Regions from separate parts of the Homo sapiens genome. Here region 2 is linked to region 1. Evidence: fine-mapped expression QTL. A gene starts in region 1. The other region holds a variant in brackets. All regions are shown on one strand. Distances are from middle to middle. Region 1 holds the start of RPS14 (ribosomal protein S14). Region 2 overlaps LOC124901106 (a long non-coding RNA gene).

Evidence for each region. PIP is the estimated chance that this variant, and not a neighbour inherited with it, causes the effect.
Region 2: its variant is the best candidate, but not a certain one, in a credible set for the expression of RPS14 in thyroid (GTEx, PIP 0.52).

The regions. Positions count from the first base shown.
Region 1 is chr5:150,448,154-150,450,965 of GRCh38, reverse strand. It overlaps RPS14 (ribosomal protein S14), which reads left to right and starts at 1,227. Exons shown (of 5, transcript NM_005617.4): 1 at 1,227-1,263. RefSeq lists enhancers at 839-1,158, 772-1,710.
Region 2 is chr5:150,424,090-150,426,901 of GRCh38, reverse strand. It overlaps LOC124901106 (a long non-coding RNA gene), which reads right to left. Exons shown (of 2, transcript XR_007058994.1): 2 at 2,557-2,812. Among named protein-coding and RNA genes, the nearest start is that of CD74, 13 kb to the right of the region's middle. The variant A/G (reference allele first, on the strand shown) is at 1,335.

The DNA of each region.
Region 1 (2,812 bases):
TTTATAATATTTATATAGTATGTAATACAAAAATACTATATATATTCCATATAAATATTACATATAGTACATAGATAAAATGTATCTACCGCTTGCCTAGCTCTGTGAGGTACACTTCTTGGCCCTTCCCCACAGCTCCGACATATTCTCCCAAGCCTTCAAGGTCCTTCAATATTGTTATTAGAGGCTGGGCACGGTGGCTCACGCCTGTAATCCCAGCACTTTGGGAGGCCGAGGCAGGTGGATCACGAGGTCAGAAAATCCAGACCACCCTAGTCAACACGGTAAAACCCCGTCTCTACTAATACACACACACAAAAAATTTGTCGGGCGTGGTGGCACGCGCCTGTAGTCCCAGCTACTTGGGAGGCTGAGGCAGAATAGCTTGAACCTGGGAGGCAGAGGTTGCGGTCAGCCGAGATTGCGCCACTGCACTCCAGCCTTGGCTACAGAACAAGATTCGGTCGAAATATATACATGTATATTGTTATTAGAGGGCTATGTGGAAGTAGCTATTAAACACGAGGGCTTTGAAGCTAGAATTCCAAACCCTTCTGCAAAGGTGTGCTCTCAGTTAACATCCTTTATCTGTAAGAGGGAAATCAAAATTATTTGATAATGTCTTGAGGAGTAAATGAAGCAATGCATATAAACTGTTTAGCCCAGACCGGTCTGAAAATACATATTGAATAATTTATTCTTATTTTGCCCATTATATAATATGCCAAAGTAAGTGATTACGGTGTGTTTTCCCCGACTATGTTGCCTAGGCTGGCCTCGAACTACTTGGACGAAGCGATCCTCAGCCTCCTGAGTAACTGGGACCACAGGCCGGCGCCACCCTAGCTTTAATTAAGGCCGTTTTGTTGTTGTTATTCCCCTGCTCCACACAAGGGGCGCTGCCGCTCCAAGGCTGCCAGGGCGGGAGTCAGGATGGCGGAAGTCTGTCTAGCCACGACCACCGCCATCATGGAATACAGGCCCACCTCACCCCGCGGGTGTAGCCGCTTCGTACTGTCGCTTAGGCCGACCCGCTCGCAGCGACAACCAGCCCTCTACCTCTTTTCGCTCTCCCTTAAGTAATAAACCGTCTTTCCTTATGACGAGTCTTAAACTCTTTGGGAGGAATAATGCCGGCGTCTTCCGGAACCCGACCTCGCCCCGTGACCTCAGAGGTATACTTCCGGGACACGGAAGTGACCCCCGTCGCTCCGCCCCCTCCCACTCTCTCTTTCCGGTGTGGAGTCTGGAGACGACGTGCAGGTAGGAGGCCCGGGCGCGACAATCGGGGGGCATCCTGCGGCGAGGGGACCCTGTGGGGCTTGGGACGAGAGACGGGGGTCTTTCCGTGGGAACCGAGCTAGGTGCCGGGCAAGAGACGCGCGGCTGGCCCACCTGGATCCTGGCCAACTCGGGATTGAGTTCGTTCCTGGTCTCAGAAGGCCCGTTTTGCTTTCAGGGAGGAGCTTGTGAAGTAAGGGTGAGTGCGGGTCCAGCCTTTTAAGGCCTCGGCCCCGCAATACGGCCACGGCCACGGCCGCGTTTGAGCTGCACAGCGTAGTTGAGGGAACCCGGGACAGACGTGGGCTCCCGCCTCTACCTCGCCAAACTTTTTTCTTGGTGATCGCAGGCCCACGCCTAATCTCGTTTGTTTCCTCGTTTGCAAAATAGGAATAACAATAGCACCGATCCCATGGGTTTGTAGTGATCATTCAAAGAAGGAAAGCAGGGAAAACTCTCGCACTATGTTGGATGCTTCTAAATCTGGGCGATTCTTTCCGTTGCTGAGTCGGGCACGTTGCAAGTTCTGGGCGCTCAGGGCCCAGCACCAATGTTTGCTGTGCGCTTGCCCTGCGTTTATATACTCCTGATGACCACTCTGCTCGTTACTTTAGGGGATGTTAGGAACGGAGAAACTGCAAATTGGCATTTACTGAATGGCCATCATGCCGAAACATACTCATGCTTACGTATTTGAGATATGCTGGAGCCTTTCTATGCTTCTCGAGGCAGAACTTTGGGCTTCTCTCCTGTGGCGCGTTCCTTACAATAGTTAACGCACTGGGTCGTGCTCATTGGTCTGATTTGAAGATAGGAACATTTAACTTCGTACACCCAAGACTTACACTTGAAGTACTTACTGTGGTCACACACTTAACTAAAGTTTATATAGGGAAGGCAGAGGAGAGATCTAGGAACACCTGAGACAGACTAGGGTAGTTATTTGTGGTGTAGAGGCATCTTGGCAGGAGGCAGAGAGTGCTGGGCTGGGAGTCAGGACACGTTGTTTCTATGTTTGGTTTTGCCACTGTCTTTACTGTGACCATAGGCTGAGACACTCTCTATCTTCACCATCTGCAGGATATCGATTAGTGTTAGTGTCTTCTGAAAATGTTAAATTGTTCTGAACACCAGGAGGTTCAGAAGGCCTGGGGCTTTAGGCCGGAAGCAGTCTTATCCTAGCCTTCCACTTTCTCATTCATTCTCACCCGCCTTCCTCCTGTCAGTTTCTCTCTCCCTTAGATCTTGTGACAGTATGATTGCAATTATTATGAAGGTCATAATAGGTTAGAGTTATTTAGTCTCAGGACCCATCAGATTTCTGAGATGGGTCTTTTCCATTAGCCTGCCTTTTGGATATATTTTAGTGCCTTTGATATTTGATGTTGGTGACAAAGATTTAGTTCTAAATAGTTGTGGGAGTCAAATCAGTTGCATTTTTGAACATTTTGAAGGGATCAGGTGGAGCACAGGAAAACAGGAGATGAGAGGCTTGAGGGCTGTGTTGGTAAGGGTCCCTTGAATTCTAAGC
Region 2 (2,812 bases), 24 kb after region 1:
TGAACCCGGGAGGCGGAGGTTGCAGTGAGCCAAGATCACGCCACTGCACTCCAGCCTGGGTGACAGAGCAAGACTCCATAAAACAAAACAAAAACAAAACAAAACAAAACAAAAAAACACAAAACTGAAAAACAAAATAGAAAACTTCTCATAAAGTACTGAGACATTTTGATGAGGATTAAAACACACATTATGGGCCAGGCATGGGGGACCATAATGTAATCCCAGCATGTTGGGAGGCTGAGATGGGCAGATCACCTGAGGTCAGGAGTTCAAGACCAGCCTGACCAACATGGAGAAACCCATCTCTACTAAAAATACAAAATTAGCTGGGCGGGGGCGGCGCATGCCTGTAATCCCAGCTACAGGCTGGGAGGCTGAGGCAGGAGAATCGCTTGAACCCAGGAGGCAGAGGTTGCGGCGAGCCGAGATCGCGCCATTGCACTCCAGCCTGGGCAACAAGAGCGAAACTCTCTCTCAAAAAAAAAAAACCACACACACATTATGTGCCTATGCTGTAAAAGAGCCCATTGTCCCCCAGTTGTCAATATAACCACAATGGGAATGAACAATGTCTTCTTGGCAGTGAGGACAATTCCTGTACAAAGGAAACTGAGTTTGTACATAATTGACTTAAAATTTTTTCTAACCATTTATTAAGAAAAAATTTAACATACAGAAAAATTGATCAGATACCCACCACTTAGCTTCAACTACTATCAATTTCACTTCTCTCTCTGTGTTTTATTTTATTATTTTGTTTTATTTTTTTTTTTGGAGACAGGGTCTTCTCCTGTCACCAAGGCTGAATGAAATGCAGTGGCACAACACAGCTCACTGCAGCCTCAATCTCCTGGGCTAAGTGATCCTCCCACCTCAGCCTCCCAAGTAGCTGGGACCACAGGTACATGCCACCATGCCCGGTGAATTTTTTATTTTCATTTTTTCTTTTTTCTTTCTTTTTTTTTTTTTTTTTTTAACATTTTTTGTAGAGATGGGGTCTTTCCATGTTGCCCAGGCTTGTCTTGAACTCCTAGGCTCAAGGGATCCTCCCATCTTAGCCTTCCAAAGGGTTGTAACTACAGATGTGAGCCACTGTGTCTGACCTCTTACTTTTAATTTTATTTATTATTATTTTTTGAGACACGGTCTCACTTTGTCACCCAGGCTGGAGTGCAGTGGCATGATCTTGGCTCACTGCAGCCTTGACTTCCTGGGATCAAGCAATTCTTCTGCCTCAGTTCCCCAAGGAGCTGGGACTACAGGCACGTGCTACCACATCTGGCTTATTTTTTGTAGAGATGATGTTTCACCATGTGGCGCAGGCTGGTCTC[A/G]AGCTCCTGAGCTCAAGTGATCTGCCTGCCTTGATCTCCCAAAGTGCTAGAATTACAGCATGAACCACCATGCCTAGGTCTTTATTTTTAGTTTTTTGAAACAGGGTCTCTGTTACCCAGGCTGGAGTGCAGTAGTGTGATCACGGCTCACTGCAGCCTCCATCTCCTGGGCTCAAGCCATCCTCCCATCTCAGCCTCTTGAGTAGCTGGGACTACAGTTGTTTGCCACCAGGCCTAGATAATAAAAAAAAAATTTTGTGGAGATGGAGTCTCACTATGTTGCCCAGGCTGGTCTTGAACTCCTAGGCTCAAGCAATCCTTCTGCCTTGGGCTCCCCATGTGCTGGGATTACAAATGTGAGCCACTGCATCTGGCCTTTATTTCTATTTTTGAGAGAGAGTTTTGCTCTGTCACCCAGGCTGGAGTGCCATGGCATGAACACAGCTCACTGCAACCTCGAACTCCTGGGCTCCAGCGATCCTCCTGCCTCAGCCTCCTGAGTAGCTAGGACTACAGGCACGCACTACTATGCCTGGCTAATTAAAAAAAAAAATTTAAGAGGCAAGGTCTCTCTATATTGCCTAGACTAGTCTTAAACTCCTGGCCTCAAGCTGCCTTCCCAAGCAATCCTCCCACCTCAGCTTCCGAAAGTGTTGAAATTACAGGTATGAGCCACCACACCCGGCCACTCTCTCTCTCTTCTCTAAACAATGTGAAAATAAGTTCAAACATCATGTCATGTTACCTCCAAGTACTTCAGCCTCATCTCCTAAAAAAATTCTCCTACCAGACTAAAACTTCATTATCATACCTAAGAAGATCAATAACAATTTCCAAATGTCCATCTGATATTCAAATTTCCCTGCTTTTAAAAAAATCTTTACGGCCGGGCGCGGCGGCTCAAGCCTGTAGTCCCAGCACTTTGGGAGGCCGAGGCGGGCGGATCATGAGGTCAGGAGATCGAGACCATCCTGGCTAACACGGTGAAACCCTGTGTCTACTAAAAATACAAAAATTAGCCGGGCGTAGTGGCGGGCGCCTGTAGTCCCAGCTGCTCGGGAGGCTGAGGCAGGAGAATGGCGTGAACCTGGGAGGCGGAGCTTGCAGTGAGCTGAGATTGCGCCACTGCACTCCAGCCTGGGCGACAGAGCCAGACTCCGTCTCAAAAAAAAAAAAAAAATCTTTTATACTTGTTTTTTTCAAATCGTACATCTTACAAAGATTTACAAATTGCATTTGGTTTATTGTTTTTTAAATCCTTTAAAATACAGATCCCCATGTATCTACACACATACACCTTTTTTTGTGACATTGATTCTTTGGAGAATGCAGGTGTTATCTTTTTTTTTTGGAGACGGAGTCTCGCTCTGTCACCGAGGCTGGAGTGCAGTGGCGCGATCTCGGCTCACTGCAACCTCACCTCTCGGGTTCAAGCAACTCTCCTGCCTCAGTCTCCTGAGTAGCTGGGACTACAGGTG